Homo sapiens: one gene and its partners. The protein of the gene in region 4 purifies or fractionates together with the protein of the main gene of each other region. This does not show direct contact. Each region holds a gene or a part of one and is shown on either strand. Other genes may lie near its edges.

What was found.
Region 1: the proteins of SOD2 (region 4) and ABAT fractionate together in Homo sapiens (co-fractionation; 2 studies listed by BioGRID). This does not show direct contact.
Region 2: the proteins of SOD2 (region 4) and ECI1 fractionate together in Homo sapiens (co-fractionation; one large-scale study listed by BioGRID). This does not show direct contact.
Region 3: the proteins of SOD2 (region 4) and MDH1 fractionate together in Homo sapiens (co-fractionation; 2 studies listed by BioGRID). This does not show direct contact.
Region 5: the proteins of SOD2 (region 4) and POGLUT3 fractionate together in Homo sapiens (co-fractionation; one large-scale study listed by BioGRID). This does not show direct contact.
Region 6: the proteins of SOD2 (region 4) and DLD fractionate together in Homo sapiens (co-fractionation; one large-scale study listed by BioGRID). This does not show direct contact.
Region 7: the proteins of SOD2 (region 4) and SPRYD4 purify together in Homo sapiens (co-immunoprecipitation; one large-scale study listed by IntAct). This does not show direct contact.

Annotation. Positions count from the first base shown.
Region 1 is NC_000016.10:8,765,117-8,768,616, forward strand, and holds part of ABAT (4-aminobutyrate aminotransferase, mitochondrial isoform 1 precursor), read left to right. Parts: intron 1-1,091; coding exon 1,092-1,154; intron 1,155-3,076; coding exon 3,077-3,140; intron 3,141-3,500. UniProt on the Homo sapiens protein: Catalyzes the conversion of gamma-aminobutyrate and L-beta-aminoisobutyrate to succinate semialdehyde and methylmalonate semialdehyde, respectively. Can also convert delta-aminovalerate and beta-alanine.
Region 2 is NC_000016.10:2,245,088-2,248,587, forward strand, and holds part of ECI1 (enoyl-CoA delta isomerase 1, mitochondrial isoform 1 precursor), read right to left. Parts: intron 1,900-3,500; coding exon 1,772-1,899; intron 1-1,771. UniProt on the Homo sapiens protein: Key enzyme of fatty acid beta-oxidation. Able to isomerize both 3-cis (3Z) and 3-trans (3E) double bonds into the 2-trans (2E) form in a range of enoyl-CoA species, with a preference for (3Z)-enoyl-CoAs over (3E)-enoyl-CoAs.
Region 3 is NC_000002.12:63,598,963-63,602,462, forward strand, and holds part of MDH1 (malate dehydrogenase, cytoplasmic), read left to right. Parts: intron 1-207; coding exon 208-330; intron 331-3,500. UniProt on the Homo sapiens protein: Catalyzes the reduction of aromatic alpha-keto acids in the presence of NADH. Plays essential roles in the malate-aspartate shuttle and the tricarboxylic acid cycle, important in mitochondrial NADH supply for oxidative phosphorylation.
Region 4 is NC_000006.12:159,669,242-159,672,741, reverse strand, and holds part of SOD2 (superoxide dismutase [Mn], mitochondrial isoform A precursor), read left to right. Parts: 3' UTR 1-3,500. UniProt on the Homo sapiens protein: Destroys superoxide anion radicals which are normally produced within the cells and which are toxic to biological systems.
Region 5 is NC_000011.10:108,474,385-108,477,884, forward strand, and holds part of POGLUT3 (protein O-glucosyltransferase 3 isoform 1 precursor), read right to left. Parts: intron 3,328-3,500; coding exon 3,223-3,327; intron 569-3,222; coding exon 443-568; 3' UTR 1-442. UniProt on the Homo sapiens protein: Protein glucosyltransferase that catalyzes the transfer of glucose from UDP-glucose to a serine residue within the consensus sequence peptide C-X-N-T-X-G-S-F-X-C. Can also catalyze the transfer of xylose from UDP-xylose but less efficiently.
Region 6 is NC_000007.14:107,918,441-107,921,698, forward strand, and holds the end of DLD (dihydrolipoyl dehydrogenase, mitochondrial isoform 1 precursor), read left to right. Parts: intron 1-569; coding exon 570-659; intron 660-753; coding exon 754-819; 3' UTR 820-2,758; downstream 2,759-3,258. UniProt on the Homo sapiens protein: Lipoamide dehydrogenase is a component of the glycine cleavage system as well as an E3 component of three alpha-ketoacid dehydrogenase complexes (pyruvate-, alpha-ketoglutarate-, and branched-chain amino acid-dehydrogenase complex).
Region 7 is NC_000012.12:56,475,078-56,478,577, reverse strand, and holds part of SPRYD4 (SPRY domain-containing protein 4), read right to left. Parts: coding exon of another isoform or gene 3,395-3,500; 3' UTR 2,955-3,394; coding exon of another isoform or gene 2,896-2,954; 3' UTR 2,634-2,895; coding exon of another isoform or gene 2,601-2,633; 3' UTR 919-2,600; coding exon of another isoform or gene 860-918; 3' UTR 646-859; coding exon of another isoform or gene 482-645; 3' UTR 396-481; coding exon of another isoform or gene 316-395; 3' UTR 1-315. Other genes in the region: GLS2 (glutaminase liver isoform, mitochondrial isoform 1 precursor), read left to right, coding at 316-395, 482-645, 860-918, 2,601-2,633, 2,896-2,954, 3,468-3,500.

The DNA of each region.
Region 1 (3,500 bases), on a different chromosome or scaffold from region 4:
AGCCCAGGAGCTCGAGACCAGCCTGGGCAACATGACGAAACCCCATCTCTACTAAAAAAAAATTCAAAAATTGGCCAGGCATGGTGACGCATGCCTGTAGTCCCAACTATTCTGGAGGCTGAGGTGGAAGGATTGCTTGAGCCTGGGAGGTCAAGGCTGCAGTGAGCCATGGTTGTGCCACTGCATTTCAGCCTGGGTGACAGAGTAAGACCCTGTCTCAAAAAAAAAAAAAGAAGAAGAAAATGCTCCTTAAATTCCCCTCCAAGGTTGGGCACAGTGGCTCACACTTGTAATCCCAGCACTTCGGGAGGCTGAGGCAGGCAGATCACTTGAGTCCAAGAGTTCAAGACCAGCCTGGGCAACATGGTGAAACCCCGTCTCTATAAAATATACAAAAAATTAGCTGGGTGCGGTGGTGCCTGCCTGTTGTCCCAGCTACTTGGAAGGCTGAGGTGGGAGGATCACTTGAGCCTGGGAGGTCGAGGCTGCAGTTAGCTGATATCATGCTACTGCACTCCAACCTGAGAGACACAGCAAGAGCAAGGAGCAAGACCCTGTAAAAAAACAAAAACAGAAACGAAAACAAAAACAAAAAAAACCCTTCCAGGCAAGCCAAGGTCTCTGGGTTGTGCCTCTAGGTTATTTTATTTAAATATTTAAATTTAAATTTATTTAAATATTCTAAATTGCAGAGACAGAGTCCCACTTTGTTGCCCAGCATGGTCTCAAACTCTTGGCCTCAAGCAATCCTCCTGTCTTAGCCACCCAAAGTACTAGGATTACAGATTTGAGCCCGCACATCTGGCCTCCATTCTTCCTGGCAAAACATGCAACGCTCTCAGCAGATCTTAATCCAACAGATCTTAATCGTTGCTGATGGTGCTTAATGCATTATGTGTGTTAGTTTCTTTTGTTGCGAGCACAGTTGGTAGCCTCACGTTTCAGTACAGACCTGCAACAATTAATACATGAGATCCACTCCTGAGAAAGCACTTTCTACTTGTCTGGACTGAATATCGGTTTGGTTGGAAAGATGAAGCCCCGACTACCCCAGAGCATCTCTGAGATTTTGTTCTGTTCTATTGTTTCAGAGCAAGGAAAGAGGGCAGAGGGGCTTCTCCCAGGAGGAGCTGGAGACGTGCATGATTAACCAGGTGAGTGCAGCTGGGCTTGCACCACGTACATCTGGGGAAGCTGCACAGCCTCTCCCGGGCTGTTGCTGGCTGGCTGGCACTGTCCTCAATTAGGAAGGGCCAGGCCAGGCGCGGTGGCTCATGCCTGTAATCCCAGCACTTTGGGAGGCCAAGGCAGGCGGATCACCCAAGGTCAGGAGTTCAAGACCAGCCTGGCTAATATGGTGAAACCCCATCTCTACTAAAAAGACAAAAATTACCCGGGCATAGTGGCACATGCATGTAATCCCAGCTACTTGGGAGGCTGAGGCAGGAGAATCATTTGAACCCAGGAGGTGGAGGTTGCAGTGAGCCGAGATCACACCACTACACTCCAGCCTGGGTGACAGAGTGAGACTCCTCTCAAAACAAACAAAAAAACAAAAACAAAAACAAAAGGCCGGCTGCTGTGGTTCACGCCTGTAATCCCAGCACTTTGGGAGGCCGAGGCGGGTGGATCTCCCGAGGTCAGGAGTTCCAGACCAGCCTGGCCAATATGGCGAAACCCTGTCTCTACTAAAAATACAAAAATTAGCCAGATGTGGTGGCGGGTACCTGTAATTCCAGCTACTCGGGAGGCTGAGGCAGGAGAATCGCTTGAACCCGACGGGCGCGGAGGTTGCAGTAGGCCGAGATCTCACCACTGCACTCCAGCCTGGCGACAGAGCAAGACTCCATCTCAAAAACAAAACAAAACAAAAAAAGTACAAGAGGGTTTCTGGAATCTGTGGGAGGAGTTCTTAGGGTTTTTCCCAGAGGTCTCAGGGAATTGGTGCTCAACCAGCCTGAGACAATGCCAACCTCCTTGAGACTTGGGGGCCCCCACAGTTCCCTCTGAGGCACCTCCAGCAGTTCTGCCTGAATCAGCTGGAAACATGTTTGGATTCCCTTGCTGGGTGAAGAGTCAGAAAACAATGCAAGGAGTTGCAGCTGTGCCATTTGCTTGGGGCTGGAAAGGGACAGGGCGTCCATGCACCCCTCCTGAACCCAAGGCGCAGCTGCCATGGGAGAGTGCCCGGAGAGGGGCTCCCCTCACCCGCTTTCTAGCACCACAGACCCCTTCCAAAGGCCTGGGGGTTTTCCTGCAAGGTGCCCAGCTCGGCCCCTTGCCTTGGTCACCCTGGGATGCAGGCGTGCACCCATCAGCACCTGACCCGCCTGACACCTGAGGAGGCCTGAGTAGTAGGGAGCCAGGGGATGGGGAGGAAGTTGAAGAGCCTGTAGAAAAGGGGCTGAAAACCCAGGAGTCCCCAGCAGCTGGAGGTAGGCGGGCAGTGGGTACTGCTTGGCCACTTACAGCTGCCACAGGAGGAAAATGGGTCCAAACAGTGCAGCACTGGTGAGAAGCCAGAAGTTCAGGTCTCTATGTGAAATTTCTTAGTTTTAAATTTTGCAACTTGTTTTGAGACAGAGTCTCGCTCTTGTTGACCAGGCTGGGGTGCAGTGGCGCGAACTCGGCTCACTGCAACCTCTGTCTCCCGGGTTCAAGCGATTCTCCTGTCTCAGCCTCCCAAGTAGCTAGGATTACAGGCCCCCACCACCATGCCTGTCTAATTTTTGTATTTTTAGTAGAGACGGGGTTTCACCATGTTGGCCAGGCTGATCCCAAACTCCTGACCTCCGATGATCCGCCTGCCTCAGCCTTCCAAAGTGCTGGGATTACAGGTGTGAGCCACCACACCCAGCCTAAAATTTGTGACTTAAAAAAAAAAAAATGTAAGTATGTATGCAAATAAAACGTGTGTCTTGGATATAGACCCCATTGGTCCCATGGGTAACTTTTGCCTGAGAAGGATTCCTGGTTCTTCTGATAGATTTCTGTGTCCCTCTGGACTTGCAGGGGCAACAATACAGTTCCCCCATCCTTACAACTATGACTAATGACTGATATTTCTTGGTTTTAGGCCCCTGGCTGCCCCGACTACAGCATCCTCTCCTTCATGGGCGCGTTCCATGGGAGGACCATGGGTAAGGAGGGACCATTGCGCTCCCAAGGTGGCGTTTAGAATAGTAATAATAACGGCAACAATAGCGGCGGCTGACATTAGCAGTTTACACATATTGTCCCACTGATTGCACACAATCCCACTGCAGAGTGGGGATTATTATTCCTGCTTTGCAGATGGGGGAATCAGTGTTCAGGAAGAGGAAGAATTTCCAAGGCTATTCAGTGACAGAGCCGGGACTGGAACTCTTGACTCTGTCTTCAAAGCCTGCGCTGCATCTGTGATTAATCGCAATGCAAACACATACCCACGCACGCATGCCAATTAAGGGTTCGAGAGTCCCCCTTCAGCTTCCGGATGAGAACTGGGGTTCAGTATCAAA
Region 2 (3,500 bases), on a different chromosome or scaffold from region 4:
CGGGCGCCAGCACAGGAGCCTCAGACTCCCAGTCAGGGCTGCCGGCCAGGGAGGCGGGCTCGGGGAGGAGTGGAGAACCCACCCTGGGGACCCTGCATGGTCACAGCCCCCTGAGCAAATGACAAGGGTACCTTCCCCTCTGCACAACACGGCACGTTTTCCTCCCGAGGGCCAGACCCCCCAAGGCTGTGGGTGAACTTGTTCCTGCAGCTGAACCCAGCTCACCCTGACTCACACAAGCAGAGCTGGGTGGATGTTTACCCCGCCCTGTCTGCAGGAAGGAGGGCGACAGCCACCTAATGTGTGCGAGGAGGAGGCGGCTGGGACAGATGGGATGGCCTCCACATCCTCAGGCGATGTGAAAAAGCCAGGAACGGTGCGGGTGGGCAACGCAGCTCCGCTGTTCCCAAACAGGTGTGAGCTGGTGCCGCACAGAATGGGTAGGCCGGTCCTTTGTTTCTACAAAACGCGTTCTACTTCCGTTACTCAAAACCCAGGCCTGGCGTGGTGGCTCATGCCTGTAATCCCAGAGCTTTGGGAGGCCAAGATTGGAGAACTGCTTGAGGCCAGGAGTTCAAGACCAGCCTGGGCAACATAGCAAGACCCCGCCTGTACAAAAAAGTAAAAATTAAGCAAAAAAATTAACCAGGTGCAATGGCTCGCACCTGTAATCCTAGCACACTGGGGAGCCGAGGTGGGAGGAGTGCTTGAGCCCAGGAGTTCAAGACCAACGTGGGCAATAAAGGCACTGTCTCTCCCAAAAATTTTAAAAATTTTCAAGATTCAAGAATCGCTTGAACCCAGGAGGCGGAGGTTGTAGTAAGCCAAGATCACGTCACTGTACTCCAGCCTGGGCAAGAGAGGGAGATTCTGTCTCAATAAATATATAAGGCTGGACGTGGCCAGCACTTTGGGAGGCCGAGGTGGGCAGATCACTTGAGGTCAGGAGTTCTAGGCCAGGCCCTGTAAAGCCACGCCAGCCTCCGAGGACCCCTCACTCCCCTCACCTCAGCCAATGCCCGCTTCTCCTCAAGGGTCCCATCCTCCTGGGCCTGACACTGCTTACTGCCCCTCGGCGATGTTGGTAATGACACCGTTCCCACAGATGACACGCCTAGCGTTCGCCAGCACTCAGGCAACATTTAGAGTCCCCTGCACAAGAACTCAGACCAAAGAGGTTCACCCTTGAGAACTCGCCCTGAAGACTGGCCCACAGAGGATCAGAGAGCATGGGTATTGTTCGCAGGACTGGCTCAGGGCACCCAAGTGATCCTAGTGGGGAGCACTCCAGGAACCCACCACCAGGTGTGCTTAGGGTCCAAGGTGACCCCATAGATGCATGGCTCTCCCTCACTCGCTGCCCACAGCTCTCCCCAGTGTCCGCCTGGACGACGGCCCGGGCAGGGAAGGCTGTCTCCCAGGAAGGCGGTCTCCCAGGAGGGCTGCCTCTTGGGAAGGCTGTCTCCCGGGAAGGGCGTCTCTTGGGAAAGCTGTCTCCTGGGAAGGCTGTCTCTGAGACTGGTCCACCTTCACCTTTGGGAATGATCTGCTTGAGGCCCATGGCAGTTTGGGTCCCTGCTGGGGCACACCCAGACGGTGCTCCTGGAAGCCTCCCGTGAAGGCGCCTGGAGTCCAGGGTGGTGGGGCTGCCGGCTGGCCTGTGCCACACGTTGGCAGGCTCTGCCTCTTCCATGTGCAACAGGCCTGGGCTCACATCAGAGAACTCAGGCCAAGAACTCGGGCTGGGGTAGGGAGCTGAACTAGCACCTACCGAGGTCAGAATGACACCGCGGAAGCTCTTGTCATTCTCCAGCTTCTCCAGGCTGATGACCAGCTCCGTCAGAAACTCCAGGCTCAGGCTGTTCACTGGGGGGTTCTTGAATTTCATCACAGCGACCCCTAATTTAAAGAATGAGAAGAGAAAGCTCACACCTGGCACTGGAAAAGCAGCCTGACCAGCCTGCACCCTCAACTAAGCCATGATAGCTGTGCATTTTGGGGGTTTTATTTATTAATTTATTTATTTAGAGACAGAGTCTCGCTCTGTCACCCAGGCTGGAGTGCAGTGGCGCGATCTCAGCTCACTGCAAGCTCTGCCTTCCGGGTTCACACCATTCTCCTGCCTCAGCCTCCTGAGTAGCTGGGACTACAGGTGCCCACCACCACGCCCGGATAATTTTTTTCTTTTAAGTAGAGACAGGGTTTCACCGTGTTAGCCAGGATGGGCTCGATCTCTTGACCTCGCGATCTGCCCACGTCGGCCTCCCAAAGTGCTGGGATTACAGGCGTGAGCCCCCGCGCCTGGTCCTATTTTTATTTACTTTTTTGAGACGGAGTTTTGCTCTTGTTGCCCAGGTTCAAGTGCAATGGAGCGATCTTGGCTCACCGCAACCTCTGCCTCTTGGGTTCAAGCGATTCGACTGCCTCAGCCTCCCGAGTAGCTAGGATTACAGGTGCGTGCCGCTACATCCAGCTAATTTTGTATTTTTAGTAGGGACGGGGTTTTCTCCATGCTGGTCAGGCTGGTCTTGAACTCCCAACCTCAGGTGATCCGCTCGCCTCGGCCTCCCAAAGTGCCAGGATTACAGGCGTAAGCCACAGCGCCCGGCCTGGGGGTTATTTTTTTATTATTATTATTTTTGAGACAGGGTCTCACTCTATCACCTAGGAGTGCAGGGGTGTGATCTCTGGTTACTGCAGCTTTGACCTCCTGGGCTCCAGCGATCCTCCCAACTCAGCCTGCTGAGTAGCTGGGATTATAGGCAAGCGCCACCACACCCAGTTAATCTTTTTTATTTTTTAGTACAGACGAGGTCTTATTTTGTTGCCCAGGCTGGTCTTGAACTCCTGAGCTTAAGTGGTCCTTCTGCCTCAGGCTCCCAAAGTGCTAGATTACAGGAGTGAGCCCTTGGTTTTTTACATTGAAGTAAGATCGATATAACATAAATTAACAATTTTATTTATTCTATATAAACTGCATGCTTTTTAAATCAACCATTCTCTCTTTCTCTCTCTATCATTTTTTTCTGAGACAGAGTCTCGCTCGTCGCCCAGGCTGGAGTGCAGTGGCGCGATCTCAGCTCACTACAACGTCCACCTCCCGGGTTCAAGCGATTCTCCTGCCTCAGCCTCCTGAGTAGCTGGGACTACAGGTATGCGCCACTATGCCCAGCTAATTTTTGTATTTTTAGTAGAGATGGGGTTTCACCATGTTGGTTGGCCAGGATGGTCTCGATCTCTTGACTTCGTGAACACCTCGCCTCGGCCTCCCAAAGTGCTGGGATTACAGGTGTGAGCCACCATGCCCGGCCAAATTAACCATTTTCTATCTTTATTTTTTTTTTGAGACAAGAGCCTCGCTCTGTTGCCCAGGCTGGAGTGCAGCAGCGCTATCTCGGCTCACTGCAACCTCTGCCTCCTGGGTTCAAGCCATTCTTCTGCCTCAGCCTCCTGAGAAGCTGGGATTACAGGACACACCACCATGCCTGGCTAATTTTTGC
Region 3 (3,500 bases), on a different chromosome or scaffold from region 4:
TCTGATATTATTTCAAAATTTTTTATTACCATTTTATAAAAGATTTTTATAACTTAAAATGCATTTTCCTATGCTATATTGTATTTGGTGTTTCCCAAGCCTCCCCTGTACAAAGGCTACCTGTTAGACATTTTCAGTCAAATTTTAACATAGATTAGTTAGTAACTATATAGTCTGTAACTCTTCAGTGCCTTCCATTCCTCCTAGGTTATTGTTGTGGGTAATCCAGCCAATACCAACTGCCTGACTGCTTCCAAGTCAGCTCCATCCATCCCCAAGGAGAACTTCAGTTGCTTGACTCGTTTGGATCACAACCGAGCTAAAGCTCAAGTAAGAAAAATATATTTTAAATCTTGTGGTTGTTCAACTTTAAAACATTTTTCTCTCACTTTTAAAATAACTGAATCTGAGTTTGTGCTTTTTTCTTGTTTTTGTTTAGTAGGAACCTATTACTTTTATTAAATTAAAAGTAAATTATTATTCATTTGTTAGGGAGTCTTTAAATGTATTCTCTTAAAGGACCAGAGGCTGGACTTCCTACTTGATTTCGTCTTTAACTATATTTCAATTGCTAACTATAATGAAATGCAGTTACTAATGTTCTCTTGTTACAGTGGTTAAAAATTAGTTATACATGATGGTACATAATTTAGTTTAATTTTTTCAGATACATATAATCTCATATAAACAAAGACTTGAGCTTTGTGTGATTGTGTGGTTCTGCTTCTATTTTAGCTGCAGCTAAGCCATCAAATTCAGATTTTAATTTTTAATTTTATATTTAATTTTCATTTTATGTCTTTTTAATATTCTATGTGTATCTGTAAAATTTCCTCCTTTCACTACTTAGGAGCTAAAGTCTGTTGCTAATTTTCTTTACTCTTAGAGCCATAGATAAGTATGCCAAGGAGCCAGTGACCAGGGAATTAACAATAGCTTTTCAAAAAATTAGAAGCCAGGCAACTGATCTGAGCTAGTTTCCTAGGCTTTTTCAGATCTAACTGGTCCTGGTGCCCGTTCTTGGACAGAACCTCTTTCCTTTGCCCTAATGCTTTTCTGGCCATCCCTTCTTGTCTGTAGGTCATCACTGCTAGATAGGTCTATGAGTTCAGTGCTTTTTCTTCTAGAGAAGATAACTTTAGTTTCAAAAAAAAATTGTTGTTAACCAGAAGATGCTGTGAGGTCTAAGCTGAAGCACTACTGCCCTAACCTGAGAATTAATAATCCTTCAGCTCTGGAATGCCTAGTGAAAGAGAAAAGAATATACATTTGTTAAGCATCTACTGTAAATTGAATGCTATACATGTAATTTTCCATTTAATTTTTATAGTAACCATATGGGTATCTCATATTATCCCTGCATTAGGTAAGAAAACTGAGGCCCAGGGAAGTCAGAGAACCTGCTCAGAGTCATACAGCTCATAAATTACGGAGCCACCTTGATTTGCCTGACTCCAAACCCTTATGTATGTTCTTACCTAATGGTATCAACTAACCTTAGTCCACTTACTAGCTCTGTGATTTTGAGAAAGTATATTCAATGTTTAAAATGTAATAATTGTATCTACCTCAGAGAGTTCTTATGAGGATTAAATAAGATCTGTTTTAAGCCCTTAGCATGGTGCCTGCACATAGTAAATACAAGAAAGGTTGGCTGCTATTATTAGTTGATTTCTTCTTTCTAAGAAGCATACAGCCTAAACATTCCTAATTTAGAGGGTTGTTGGATAACAACCCTTAAATTTTTAGCTTAAAGTGCAAATATTCCCTGAGAGGCTATAGGCTGTGAGCTGGGTCTGGTGGTAGCTGAGAACGAATAGGAGTTTGTTTGAATGGCAGGCAGTTTGAGTTCTGTGGGACAGTTGTAAAGGAAGAGATATTATACATGTTACAGTTGCAAACTCTGGATTGCCAGAAAGTGACTTATTTAGTTCCTACAACAAGAAAGTTCCTACAACAATGACACTAACAACCACTTTTTGTTGTTTCACCTGAGGCTTTGGTGGAGACAGGCATTGGAAAATTCTGCTTCCAAAGGTACTTCAAAGAGATACTTTGTCCTGGTGCCTGAAACAGTTCTCACTGCAGGGCTCAAGTCTGAATGAGCAAAGAGGAAAGAAAGTGCTATCTCCTCAGACTTTAACCTTCACTTGGGGACATGTTCTTTGTTACTCCTGGGACCTTGGCTAGGCATTGTTTCAGCATGTCAATCTGGCATAGTGAGAGCTTTTAGGGAGTCATTGAAGAAGCACTTTCTTCCTCTAGAAGAAGTTGTTTATCCAGTGAGAAAAATAACAAACCCAAAGATAAGTTTTTCTTACAGGACTGGTTGCTAGATATTTTTGTCTTGGAATTCAGAGGCCTTAGCGACTTAGGGACTGTTTAACACCTGCAGAACTTGCCTGTGTATTTGCAAACCAGTGCTGTATTTATGTCTGCTGATAAGGTAATTTGACATTGATACCAGATAAGGTAATTTGACAATGATACCAGTTAGCTTGTAAGAAAATTACTAGGGCTGGAGAATTAATCAAAAACTTTTAACAGACCTATGTGACAGACATGAGTGTCTAAGGGAGCAAAGAGCTGTTATCCTGGGTATGTATTAATTTAGACTAATTGTGACATGAATCATATTAAGAAACTATATCTGCTGGATGCAAAGTACCTGGCCTTTGCTGTCCAGACAGAACTGGATTAGCTCAAGAGATAGAAGGAGCAAGAGGAGGAGGGCAACAAGAACAAAGGAAGGCATGGGAGCCAAGGAGGACTGAGGGTGGAGAGGCCTAGAGGCATTTTGTCTTCACTGTACTTGGGAGCATTGAAGCAGACATTCAGGGAAGTTATAGGCTCTAACTTCCTGGTAATATATATCTTGAGTTAATTGTTCAAGGTATAAATTTATCTTTTTCTATATACCATACCAGCTAAATTTAAGTATAAATATAAGAGCAGTTTCTTCCCCAGTTCTTTCTGGTCATGGCAGACGTAAAAAATGGTACTCATTGAACAGCGTGCCACTCTACCCTATCCCACAGGCTAAGCAGATCAATAGCTGGGTACCCCAGAAACCCAACTGTGAACTAATTTGTGGAGACTAATGCAAATATTGTAGATAATAGTCCTAATACTTGCAAGACTTGCAGGGATTAGATCGGTCAAAAGTGATTTACAATATCACAAACATAAATTTTTAAGTAAACTTTTAACTATTTTAGGATTTAAGAAAGCAGTCTCAACTAGTTTAAGAGTGGGAGTGAAAGTAAAGACAGTTTACTTCTTACTTAACTGAATAAATTAGTATGAAGACCAGTCGAGTCATTGCAGACATTTTAGGTAATGGCCTTTTTTTTCATCTTTATCCTTTTCGGTTGGTTGGTTGGGGTTTTTTTTTTTTTTTTTTTTTGCTTTTTATTTTGAAATAATTTTAGACTCAAAAGTCGCAAAAAAATAGTACAGAGAAGGCCCATGTACCCATCACCCATTGATGGTACCTTACA
Region 4 (3,500 bases):
TGTTATGTGTGAATTTGATCCTGTCACTAGGATGTTCACTGGTTATTTTGCTCGTTAGTTGATGCAGTTTCTTCCTAGCCTCAATGGTCTTTACAATTTGGCATGTTTTTGCAGTGGCTGATACTGGTTGTTCCATTCCATGTTTAGTGCTTCCTTCAGGAGCTCTTGTAAGGCAGGCCTGGTGGTGACAAAATCTCTCAGCATTTGCTTGTTTGTAAAGGATTTTATTTCTCCTTCACTTATGAAGCTTAGTTTGGCTGGATATGAAATTCTGGGTTGAAAATTCTTTTCTTCAAGAACGTTGAATATTGACCCCCACTCTCTTCTGGCTTGTAGAGTTTCTGCTGAGAGATCAGCTGTTAGTCTGATGGGCTTCCCTTTGTGGGTAACCCGACCTTTCTCTCTGGCTGCCCTTAACATTTTTTCCTTCATTTCAACTTTGGTGAATCTGACAATTATGTGTCTTGGAGTTGCTCTTCTCGAGGAGTATCTTTGTGGCGTTCTCTGTATTTCCTGAATTTGAATGTTGTCCTCCCTTGCTAGATTGGGGAAGTTCTCCTGGATAATATCCTGCAGAGTGTTTTCCAGCTTGGTTCCATTCTCCCCGTCACTTTCAGGTACACCAATCAGACGTAGATTTGGTCTTTTCACATAGTCCCATATTTCTTGGAAGCTTTGTTCGTTTCTTTTTACTCTTTTTTCTCTTAACTTCTCTTCTCACTTCATTTCATTCATCTGATCTTCAATCACTGATAACCTTTCTTCCAGTTGATCGAATTGGCTACTGAAGCTTGTGCATTCGTCACGTAGTTCTCATGCCATGGTTTTCAGCTCCATCAGGTCATTTAAGGACTTCTCTATGCTGGTTATTCTAGTTAGCCATTTGTCTAATCTTTTTTCAAGGTTTTTAGGTTCTTTGTGATGGGTTCGAACTTCCTCTTTTAGCTTGGAGAAGTTTGATCATCTGAAGCCTTCTTCTCTCAACTCGTCAAAGTCATTCTCCGTCCAGCTTTGTTCTGTTGCTGGCAAGGAGCTATGTTCCTTTGGAGGGGGAGAGGCGCTCTGATTTTTAGAATTTTCAGCTTTTCTGCTCTGTTTTTTCCCCATCTTTGTGGTTTTATCTACCTTTGGTCTTTGGTGATGGTGATGTGCAGATGGGGTTTTGGTGTGGATGTCCTTTCTGTTTGTTAGTTTTCCTTCTAACAGTCAGGACCGCCAGCTGCAGGTCTGTTGGAGTTTGCTGGACGTCCACGCCAGACCCTGTTTGCCTGGGTATCACAGTGGAGGCTGTAGAACAGCGAATATTGCTGAACAGCAAATGTTGCTGCCTGATCATTCCTCTGGAAGCTTCATCTCAGAGGGGTACCCGGCCATGTGGGGTGTCAGTCTGCCCCTACTTGGGGGTGCCTCCCAGTTAGGCTACTCGGGGGTCAGGGACTCACTTGAGGAGGCAGTCTCTCCGTTCTCAGATCTCAAACTCTGTGCTGGGAGAACCACTGGTCTCTTCAAAGCTGTCAGACAGGGACATTGAAGTCTGCAGAGATTTCTGCTGCCTTTTGTTCGGCTATGCCATGCCCCCAGAGGTGGAGTCTACAGAGGCAGGCAGGCAGGCCTCCTTGAGCTGCAGTGGGCTCCACCTAGTTCGAGCTTCCCGGCTGCTTTATTTACCTACTGAAGCCTCAGCAATGGTGGGCTCCCCTCCCCTAGCCTCACTGCCACCTTGCAGTTCGATCTCAGACTGCTGTGCTAGCAATGAGCAAGGCTCCATGGGCGTGGGACCCTCCGAGCTAGGCACAGGATATAATCTCCTGGTGTGCCGTTTGCTAAGACCATTGGAAAAACGCAGTATTAGGGTGGGAGTGACCCAATTTTCCAGGTGCCGTCTGTCACAGCTTCCCTTGGCTAGGAAAGGGAATTCCCTGACCCCTTGCCTTCCCGGGTGAGGCCATGCCTTGCCCTGCTTCAGCTCATGCTCAGTGGGCTGCACCCACCGTCCTACACCCACTGTCCAACAAGCCCCAGTGAGATGAACCTGGTACCTCAGTTGGAAGTGCAGAAATCACCTGTCTTCTGCGTCGCTCACGCTGGGAGCTGTAGACTGGAGCTGTTCCTATTCGGCCATCTTGGAACCCAACCCAAGTCTGGCATTTTTTGGTTTTCTCTGTGTATTGACTATGATTATAGAGGATAAATGGATATTGATATTATTAAATCGTCATTTACAGAAGGCACACAACTTATATCCTTTAAACAAAGTTCTCCAACCAGTAGGGTATACTTGCTGGTAGTGCTTACAGCTGCCACCATTCTTCACTGGGGCTCAGAGTGGATGCCTGGAGGAAAAAAACAAATGAATCTTTTAGCTCCTAGTTACTGTTAGCATTTTTACCAGAAAACAATTTAAAAAATGACACAAGTAAGTCTTCACCTATCAAGGCTGAGTGTGGTGGCCTATACTTGTAATCTCTGTGCTTTGGGAGGCCAACGCAGGAGGATCTCTTGAGTCCAGGAGTTTGAGACCAGCCTGGGCAACAAAGCAAGACCCCATCTCTACAGAAAGTTAAAATTTAGCTGGGCATGCTGGCACATCCCTATAGTCCCAGCTACTTGAGAGGCTGAGTTGGGAGGATCCCTTGAGGTCATGAGTTGGAGTCTACAGTGAGCTGTGATTACAGTGTGAGTCTACACTGCACTCCAGTCTGGGTGAAAGAGATCCTGTCTCTCAAAAAACAAGTGATTCTCCTGGGAAGAGATTTGTTTAAAAAGTCTGCACCTCTATTGATGATAACTTTGAATGTAAATGGATTAAATTCTCCCACTTAAAAGATATAGATTGACTGAATGGATTAAAAACCACCATCATGACTCGACTGTATGCTGCCTACAAGAAACCTCACCTGTAAAGACAGGCCAAAAGTGAAGGTATGGAGAAAGATATTGCATACAAATGGAAGCCAAAAAAGAGCAGAAATAACTATACTTACATGAGATAAAATAGACTTTAAGTCAAAAACTGTAAAAAGAAAAGTCATTATGTAATGAAACAAGGATCAATTCATGCAAGATATAATCATATTTTTTTATTAAGAAAATTTTTTTGTAGAGATGGGGTTATGCTATGTTGCCTGGCTAGTCTCAAACTCTGGGTCTCAAAGCAGTCCTCCTGCTTTGGCCTCCTAAGGTGCTGGGATTATAGGCATGAGCCACTGTGCCAGGCCTGAGGATATTATCATTATAAATATATATGTACCCCACACTGGATGACCCAGATATAAAGCAAATATTATTAGATTTAAAGGGAGAAATAGACTCTAATACAATAGTAGTTGAGGACTTCACTCTACTCTCAGCATTGGACAGATTTTCTAGACATAAAACCAATAAATATTGGATTTAAATTGCACTTTACACCAAATGGACCTGACATTTACAGAACATTCTAATAGGTGCAGAACACTCTAATAGCTGCAGAACACACGTTCTTTTCATCAGCACATGGA
Region 5 (3,500 bases), on a different chromosome or scaffold from region 4:
AAACTTTTTGAGTGCTGACACCACCACTTGGGTCGCTAAGATAGTGACACCTTTGCTTTCTGACAGTTCAATGTATACAAACTTTGTTTCATGCACAAATTATTAAAAATATTATATAAAATTACCTTCAGGGTATGTGAACAAGGTATATATAAAATATAAATGAATTTTGTGTTTAGACTTGGATCTCATCCCCAAGATACCTCATTATGTACATGCAAATATTCCCAAATCTTAAAAAATCTGAAGCCTGAAACACTCCTGGTCCTAAGCATTTCAGATGAGGGATACTCAACCAGTACTGCTATATCCATCTACATATATAAAGCCACCGGGAGAACTAGTCCACTTGGTGCAGTCTTCTATACTGTCCTTCACAGCTTAGATTCAATCTTTCCTTAAAGTGTAGCCGGGATACACAGGAGTGTGATTCTGGGCTGACTCAAAGTTCTTCTCTTGAAGGCTTTTTCCTGTGGCACTGGCAGATGGCTGTGCTATCTTCTGGCTGAGGAACAAGTTCCATTCCATCACGTACTTCGGGTTTGCTGGACTGGCGCTCGGCATATTTCTGAAACGTGGGTTTAAAGGGAACTGAAAGGTTAGTTCACACTGCATTCTGTTGACTCCCCCACCCACTCCCATCCGCAGTCACGCCATCTTTTCTAGTTGCTGTGTGTCTGCAGACTAAAACCAAAGGTCTGGTTTATTCCAGTCCTAAAGTTACATTTTAACTTTAGCTATCACAGGCACTAGTTATAATTCATAATCTAGCAAGAAACCCCAATCCACAATTTTATGTGTTGGTTGGAAGCCTCTACAAAAGGGATGCCAAGCCAGACGTCCCTACCTGAAACAAACAGCAGCTCTCAGCATTTATTTTCCACTTGTTATTGAATAATTAACTTTGTTGAATACTCAAGCCAGCAAACAAACAAGATAACCATCTGAAAAGTTGGCAGTCTCACACATTCTTTCTTTTAGGCCTATAGTCACACGCATTTTTGAATGGCAACAGGTCTGTGTAATGTTCCTCCACTGTGGCCCTGAGTGAAATATTTCTATAAATGGAGTTTTTTTTGTTTTTGTTTTTTTTTTTTTTTGAGACACGGTCTTACTCTGTCACTGAGGCTGGAGTGCAGTGGCGTGATCTTGGCTCACTGCAGCCTCCAACATCCTAGGCTCAAGTGATCCTTACACCTCAGTCTCCTAAGTAGCTGGGACTACAGGCGCGTACCACCATGCCCAGCTAATTTTTTTCATTTTTTGTAGAGATGGCGTTTCACCATGTTGCACAGCCTGGTCTTCAACTCCTGGACTCAAGCAATCTGCCTACCTCAGCCTCCCAAAGTGCTGGGACTACAGGCATGAGCCACCCTGCCCAGACATAAATTGGATATTTCAATTCAATGATTCCATGTCCCTTTTGCTGTATATTCCTGGTACTGGACCAAATGCAACAAAATGTTGACACAGTAGATAAGCCTAATTAATATTTTAGAGAGAGAAATTCCTAACATTAAAATTGAAACTATTTGGGAGGCTGAGGCTGGAGAATCACTTGAGGAACCAGGGAAACACGGCAAGAGCTTGTTTCTAAAAAAAATAAATAAATTAGCTGAGTGTGGTGGTGTAGTCCCAGCTACTAGTGGGAGGCTGAGGTGGGAGGGGGGAAGAATCGCTTGATCCTAGGAGGTTGAGGCTGCAGTAAGCTGTGATCATGCCACTGCACTCCAGCCTAGGTGACCGAGTAAGAAATATATATATTTTTAGATGCATTTTGCTCTTGTTGCCCAGGCTGGAGTGCAGTGGTGCAATCTAGGCTCACTGCAACCTCTGCCTCCCAGGTTCAAGCGATTCTCCTGCCTCAGCCTCCTGAGTAGTTGAGATTACAGGCATGTGCCACCACACCTGGCTAATTTTGTATTTTTAGTAGAGACGGGGTTTGACCATGATGGCCAGGCTGGTCTTGAACTCCTGACCTCAGGTGATCCACCCTCCTCGACCTCCCAAAGTGCTGGGATTACAGGTGTGAGCCACTGCACCCGGCCAAGAAATTGTTAAAAAAACTGTTTAACGATTAAAGCTAGACCAACAGAGGGGACAGACCAATTTAAGGGAAGGAAGGGCTGCTTCTAGTAAATAGTGTAACTTATCATTTTTATTTTTCTATGAAAATGAAAATATGAGAGGGTAGTATCCACAAGCATCTAGGGAAATTTACTTTTACTATGCCTACAGAAAAATAAATTTAGGTTAAAAACAAGAACATAATTTCCTTTTTTTATTCTTCCTGTCTAGATTTTTCTGAGTAAAACTCAAGGTAGTTACTCAAAAGACCAATCCTCGGATTCCCAATAAACACTATACTTCAGGATTCAGCCCTAAGGTGTTAGAACTGTTATACATATTTCTCATTAGTTTGTTTGCTACAGCAAGCTAAATATTTGCATTCTGCCTTGTACTATAAAAGGCATGAATCTTAAGTATCAAGGAGAATAAGGAGGCGACATTTTGAGTAAAAAGGGATGTTAATGATCTCCAGTCCAACCATCTTGTTTTCCAAATAAGAAAAAATGTTTTTCTCTGAGGTTCCAGAACACCTACACTAGGAATTCAATAAAGCATTTAATAAAAGAGAGCACTGAGAAGATGGGAGGAGTTGCTAATCTATATTTGTGAGGGCTCCCAGCGTCGTTTTACATAATATGGAATAAAGATGAAAATATGGAGGCCACGGCTGGGCGTGGTGGCTCACACCTGTATCCCAGCACTTCAGGAGGCCAAGGCAAGGCAGATCACCTGAGGCCAGGAGTTCAAGACCAGCCTGGCCAACATGGCGAAACTCCGTTTCTACTAAAAATACAAAAATTAGCTGGGCATGGTGGCGTGTACCTGTAATCCCAGCTACTTGGGAGTCTGAGGCAGAATTGCTTGAACCTGGAAGGCAGAGGCTGCAGTGAGCTGAGATTGAGACACTGCACTCCAGCCTGCATGACAGAGTGAGACTTCATCTCAAAACAAACAAACAAACAAAAAACAAAAAAAAGGGGGCCACCAAATGAAGACTTAGCACTATCTTTCCCTAGGCAAGTGCCTTGGCTTAGCCAGTGGTCCATAGGCTTGACTGTGAGTCCTTCAGGAAGCCAGGCAGGAAGTGTACAGGCCAAGCGGGTAGTCTGAGGACACCCGACCCAGCAGTGTGGACGGACACTCTGAACTGACCTGCAGTACTTGGTAATAGTAGCAGTAAAGCCTGTGTGGCTGTAGTAGGTCCCTAGCCATCAACTGTCCTTCTTTTGCAATCTTCTTGGCTTCTTCATCATTTTCCTGAAAGGTTAAAAAAAATAAAAATGAATGAAAATTACTACTGCGACCCACAAAGAGAGGGTTAAGTGTGAGGTGGGACAGATGTGGGGTTGAAAGTGAACAGCATGGGAAAGCCAGAACATAATGGAATTATAACTTAAGAATGAGGCTACAGGGGCCGGACATGGTGGCTC
Region 6 (3,258 bases), on a different chromosome or scaffold from region 4:
TCATTTTCACAACAGACCAAATATTTGCATTTTAGGGCCTTTGTGCTTAAGATACCCTCTGCTTAGACTGTTCTGCCTCCAGATCTTTGAATGGCTGGCTCCTTATTATTCAGGTCTCAGCTCAAATGTTACCTCCTAAGGGAAGCCTTTCCTACCACTGAGCCTAAAGTATGTATCTTTCTTGTAGATATCTCTTGTATCTGATGTAACAATAATGAGAATAGAATATTTGAGTGCTGTGTCACTTTAGTATACATTTTGTTATTTTTACATCAGCTTTTTGAAATAGGTGCTGTTATTTTTGAGGTGAAGAAACTGAATGAAGCACAAAGAACCAATGAATGGTTAAGGTAGTAAGTGGTAGATATGAATTGAAGGCCCTTTGGCTCCAGAGCCCAAGCTCTTCTGTGTCACCTTTTCTATTAAGCTTTTCCTGACTTTTCTTCAACTGATAAAGAAACAGATTTAAGGCGTTTTTAAGATCTAAAAGCTTCCCCTCAACAATTGCTATCCTATTAGCATGTAGTTTTTGCCTTGGAAGCAAATTTACTTGGCTTGTTATTTTAAAGGGTGCTGGAGAAATGGTAAATGAAGCTGCTCTTGCTTTGGAATATGGAGCATCCTGTGAAGATATAGCTAGAGTCTGTCATGCACATCCGGTAATTATTAACAACATATAGAATTGATGGTTGCCTAAATTTTCTTCTGACCCACAAATATTTGGATTTTAATTTTAAATTTCTTCCCTTGCAGACCTTATCAGAAGCTTTTAGAGAAGCAAATCTTGCTGCGTCATTTGGCAAATCAATCAACTTTTGAATTAGAAGATTATATATATTTTTTTCTGAAATTTCCTGGGAGCTTTTGTAGAAGTCACATTCCTGAACAGGATATTCTCACAGCTCCAAGAATTTCTAGGACTGAATTATGAAACTTTTGGAAGGTATTTAATAGGTTTGGACAAAATGGAATACTCTTATATCTATATTTTACATAAATTTAGTATTTTGTTTCAGTGCACTAATGTGTAAGACAAAAAGCTACTTATTGTAGCATCCTGGAATATCTCCGTCAACTCATATTTTCATGCTGTTCATGAAAGATTCAATGCCCCTGAATTTAAATAGCTTTTTTCTCTGATACAGAAAAGTTGAATTTTACATGGCTGGAGCTAGAATTTGATATGTGAACAGTTGTGTTTGAAGCACAGTGATCAAGTTATTTTTAATTTGGTTTTCACATTGGAAACAAGTCAGTCATTCAGATATGATTCAAATGTCTATAAACCGAACTGATGTAAGTAAACGGTCTCTCACTTGTTTTATTTAACCTCTAAATTCTTTCATTTTAGGGGTAGCATTTGTGTTGAAGAGGTTTTAAAGCTTCCATTGTTGTCTGCAACTCTGAAGGGTAATTATATAGTTACCCAAATTAAGAGAGTCTATTTACGGAACTCAAATACGTGGGCATTCAAATGTATTACAGTGGGGAATGAAGATACTGAAATAAACGTCTTAAATATTCATTTACTGGTTATCATGAGTACGTGTTGAGATGGTCATAGTTTTTTTTATGACTACTTCTAGTGTATATTCTAATTTCTTTTCTAGGCCTGAATGTATCTTTATTTTCATGTTATAGGACAATATTAAGGCATTTTAAAGGTCATCATCCTTTCATCTATTTTAGATACACCTACTAAATGTTTAATATATACTTTTGGAGAAGTACAACATAAGGGAGTCTTTAATCTGTGTTTTCCTTGGCTGGGTTAATGACTGTTTATTTAAAGAGTGTTGTAAAATTGGATGTGTGGTGTTTAAAATGGCCATGTCCTGAGGAAACTTAAGTAACAAAGTACTAAATGCTAAGTAGGCTTTTGCATATTGTAACTAAATTTAAGAATAATTCAGATTAAGTAGTTCTGAAATTTGGTATAGATAGCATAGATTGTCTCATGCTCATGAGTGACATAATGACCCTGGATTCTGTTACATACTTCTAAAGAAAATTGATTGTTGTCTTAGGAGGCAGTTAACTTGGCTGAACACCAACTCCACACTCTGTCTTGTTTGTAGGTGGCAGCAGCTGAAATCTCTTCTCAGTTGTTTTAGCTTTAGCTATGCTGCTGGAAGTCTTTCCCATGCAAGTGTGTAGTTCAGGGGTCAACCAGAGTTTGGGCAGAAGGAAGTCTGCCCCTTCTGTGCCTCCTGTTTTTTGGGGGTTTCCCCTTTATGTTCCAGCTGTTGTGGTTGCCCCATATTCTGCCTTCTGATCCTTAACCAATAAAACTTGGCTTTTGTTTCCCCCTCAAGTGAGAACCCGTTAAAAATGAGACATTGAGCCAGTGCTGTTCACTTTTTAAGTGCCAACTTCCCTCTACTTTCCACTTGTTTATAGTTGTTTCCAGTGCCTTTAGTTTTTTCTAAAATATATTTGTTCAGAGTTTGCAGTTGCTATCAGCAGGAGGGTTGGTCTGATATCTGTGTGCTACTTTGCCATTATTGGAAGTGAACTCTGCATCTTTTTAAAAATTTGAAATCCCGGTATCATGTGAAGTGCTGTTTATGTAAATCTCAACATATCCCTTACTCAGGGAAAAAAAAGTTTTTAGTTAGGGAATAGTGAAATATAATTTAATATGGAATTCTAGCTGTAGAGTTAAATCCATCTTTAAGTGTTTACATTCAGTATGAGAATGCAAATTTATCTGTATGGGGAATAAAGTCCTAGGAATAAAACAAGTTTTAAGTGTTCACTTACTGTTATCTACTAAGCTGTCAATATTTTTGTGGCTTGTGAAGAGTGAAATTAATTGTCCACTTCATTGAACTGATTAAAATTAGTAATTTCAACTGGCTGGGAGCGGTGGCTCACTCCTGTAATCCCAGCACTTTGGGAGGCCGGGGCGGGCAGATCACCTGCGGTCAGGAGTTTGAGACCAACCTGACCAATGTGGTAAAACCCCATCTCTACTAAAAATATAAAAATTAGCCAGGTGTGGTGGCAGGCCCCTGTAATCCCAACTACTCAGGAGGCTGAGGCAGAATCACTTGAACCCAGGAGGCGGTGAGCTGAGATCATGCCACTGCATTCTAGCCTGGCGACAGAGCGAAACTCCGTCTCAAAAAAAAAAAAAAAGTAATTTCAAAGTGAGATCTTTAGTTGTTTAGCTGAAAAGGAATGGAGAGTGTTTCTACTGTTCTAAGTAAAATACTACATAATTGCTCTAGTAGATGATGGGGTATGACCATTTTT
Region 7 (3,500 bases), on a different chromosome or scaffold from region 4:
ATCGAATAGAGCCTTCAAAGGGATTTATAGGGTAACTGAGCCTAAGAACCAAAAGGGGAAGGTTGCCTCAGAATTCTCCTTTTTTAACTTCCATTGGCTTTACTGCTATCTCTACAGGATTGCGGATACACAAAGATATGGCCTTCTAGGACTTAAGGCTCGGGCATTTCTGGGAGCAACAGGCAGGAGGGAACCCCTCTGCCCTATAGAAGACAGAATTTTAGCTTTTATCTAAAAGATTCTCTTGACCCTCAACCTCAACTCTGTTCCTCTTCTCCACATCCATCTCCCTTTTCTCTACCCACTCATGTCCAGGTGGCAGCCTACATCCCTCAGCTGGCCAAGTCAAACCCAGACCTGTGGGGTGTCTCCCTGTGCACTGTGGATGGTCAACGGTGAGATGCTGGGCAAGAGGAAGGGGAGGCAGGGCACAGGTGCCGAACACAGGCCAACCCCTTTCATGGCATCTGTCTGCCTCCAGGCACTCTGTGGGCCACACAAAGATCCCCTTCTGCCTGCAGTCCTGTGTGAAGCCCCTCACCTATGCCATCTCCATAAGCACCCTAGGCACTGACTACGTGCACAAGTTTGTGGGCAAAGAGCCAAGTGGCCTGCGCTACAACAAGCTCTCCCTCAATGAGGAAGGTGAGCACTACCAAGGCTCAGACCGTACTTACAGCTGTCCCCTTCTCCTTATCCCCACCCCATCTCCCAGCCTTTTTTGTTTCTCTGCCCTTCCTGATTAGCCCTGTCATGCCTTTCTCCCTAGCAGTCTTTCTTGTCTAACCCACAAAGTGAGCGGGCTGTCAGGGAGGCTTTGTTCAGTGGCTAAGACTCTTGGTGGTTTGTATTTCCCCAGGAATCCCCCATAACCCCATGGTCAATGCTGGTGCCATTGTTGTCAGCTCCCTGATCAAGGTCAGTGCCACCTTAACCTTCTGATAGGTATTATCCTCTAAGCTCCTGTGTTCCTGTATCCCTCATATTTGTTCAGCTCTCCAGGGAGACTGGTGGGGCTCTGATTCCTTTGAGGGTCCCCAGAAGGCACATGAGGCACAGCAGGGACCCACATGTTATGCTGACAATGTCAGTATAAGAGACTGCACCACCTCCGTCATCCCCACTCAGTACTGTTCCCTGCCCCCACCCATGAGTCTAGAGCCTAGAGCTTTCTGACCCTTAGAGAAGTGAGCAGGTCCTGACCCCTGCCTAGGACCAAGGGCCAAATGCCAGAGACAAGGGGAGGACAGCACTATTGGGCACTGATTGGCCACTTCTGGGTGTGGGACACCTGCAGGCAAGGGTGAATGGCCAGGCCAGGGCAGTTATTCACGTCACCTGGAACTGTGAGTTGGCCTTGAACAGGGTGTCAGACTAGCCCATCAGCTGTAGGTCTCCCAGGGCTTGAGCAAGAACCTGGGAGCAGCTGGGCAGCAACACCCTGGAGCCAATCACAGCCCCTCCTGGGGAAGGTGGTGTTAGGAATCCTCCCCTCAGGGACTCAGGTATCAGAGTCCCTGTGGTATTGACTCTGTAGTTGACACATGAGTAAGCAATGAGTCTGGGTGAGGAAAAGAGGCTGAGTCTCTCCCCTTGTTCTGTGATGGCTCCATCTACAAACCTGTATCTGGGACCTGCCTCATCCCATTCCCATCTAAGTAGGACCTTTTTTAAAAAATATAGAGGCCAGGCGCGGTGGCTCACGCCTGTAATCCCAACACTTTGGGAGGCCGAGGTGGGCAAATCACGAGGTCAGGAGATCGAGACCATCCTGGCTAGCACGGTGAAACCCCGTCTCTACTAAAAATACAAAAAATTAGCCAGGCTTGGTGGTGGGCACCTGTGGTCCCAGCTGCTCGGGAGGCTAAGGCAGGAGAATGGTATGAACCCGGGAGGCGGAGCTTGCAGTTGAGCCGAGATCCTGCCACTGCACTCCAGCCTGGGCGACAGAGCAAGACTCCATCTCAAAAAAAAAAAAAAAAAAAAATTGAGGCAGGGTCTCTCCTATGTTGCCTAGGCTGGTCTCAAACCCCTGGTCTCAAGCGATCCTCCTGCCTCAGCCCCCCAAATTGCTGAGATTACAGGCATGAACCATCATGCTGGCCAATGGGATGGAGTAAAGCTCCAGCATGGGGTGTAAGGAATGGGGATGGAGATCAGGGATAGGGTGGGGCTAGGAGACAGGATTCGAGTCAGGAAAATGAACGTGGGAGTCAGGGATGAGGGTTTGGATTGAGAATGGAAGTGGGATGGCCCAGCAAGCTGGCTCATGCCTGTAATCCGAGCTACTTGGAGGCTGAAGTGGGAGGATCGCTTGAGCCTGGGAGGTCAAAGCTGCAGTGAGCCATGATCGTGCCACTGCACTCCAGCCTGGGTGACAAGGGTGACAAAGCAAGACTGTCTCAAAAAAAAGAAAGAGAAAGAGAGGAGCCAATGGAAGTGCGGTGTTTTCAGAAGGATAAAAAAAGGGCCATTATAAAATTGAACACATTTGCAGCAGCAGGACCAGACTAACACTAGAACTCCACTAGATCCTTCTGACCCTTCCCTCTGTCATCCTCCTACACTTAGAATGCTGACATCTCTCTCTTTCTCTGCAGATGGACTGTAACAAAGCAGAGAAGTTTGATTTTGTAAGTTCCCTTGCTACTTAGCCCCTGGCTGCATTTCGCCATGGCATGCTGTCCTCTCCAGCTGCCCCAGTGGCTCTCTAACCCCACTACCAGGTGCACCAGCCCATACTAGAAGCCTTATTTCCAGAAATGTGGAAATCTGCTGGCCTCAGAGAGGAAAGCCTCTTGACAAGACCTGAGTTCAGAAGGGCTAGTCAACCTGTGAGGTATTAATAGAGCTTCTTAACCAAGTGGAGCCTCAATGTCCCTTTTTCTCTTCCAGGTGTTGCAGTATCTCAACAAAATGGCTGGGAATGAATACATGGGTTTCAGCAATGCCACGTAAGTCCCTACTCAGAGGACTGACTGAAAGCATTGTGGTGTATGTGTGTGTACTTAGGATGGGGACAAGAGGAATGGGGGAGAGAGAATCTTAGGAGGAAGAAATCCCAGGGGAACTTTGGCCCTCCAGCTTCCTCTGAGTCCCTTCATAAACATTTGTTTATCTTGTAAAATAATTTGTTCCATTTCTAATTAGTACATAATGAGAGAGGCAGTGTGATGGTTTGTGCCTAAGCCCTTTCTTGCCAAGACTTTCAAAGCCAAAAACTTCACCAGTTTTCCTAGATGACTAGACAGTTTGGGGTGTTTGGTTTGGGTTTACTTTATAACAAAACTATGCTGAGTGTTTGCTCAGGTTCAGAAATTTCCTCTAATATTACTGTGAGAAGTTATAAAGGGGTTCATTTAGTTTGTGGTGTGATGTAGTTCTGTCTCTCCAGGGAAGGTAATTTTTCCCCTTCTCCCAACACCCACTCCTCCAACTTCAAGTACTAAATTGGGTGTTTGCTTCAGATTCCAGTCAGAGAAGGAAACAGGGGATCGGAA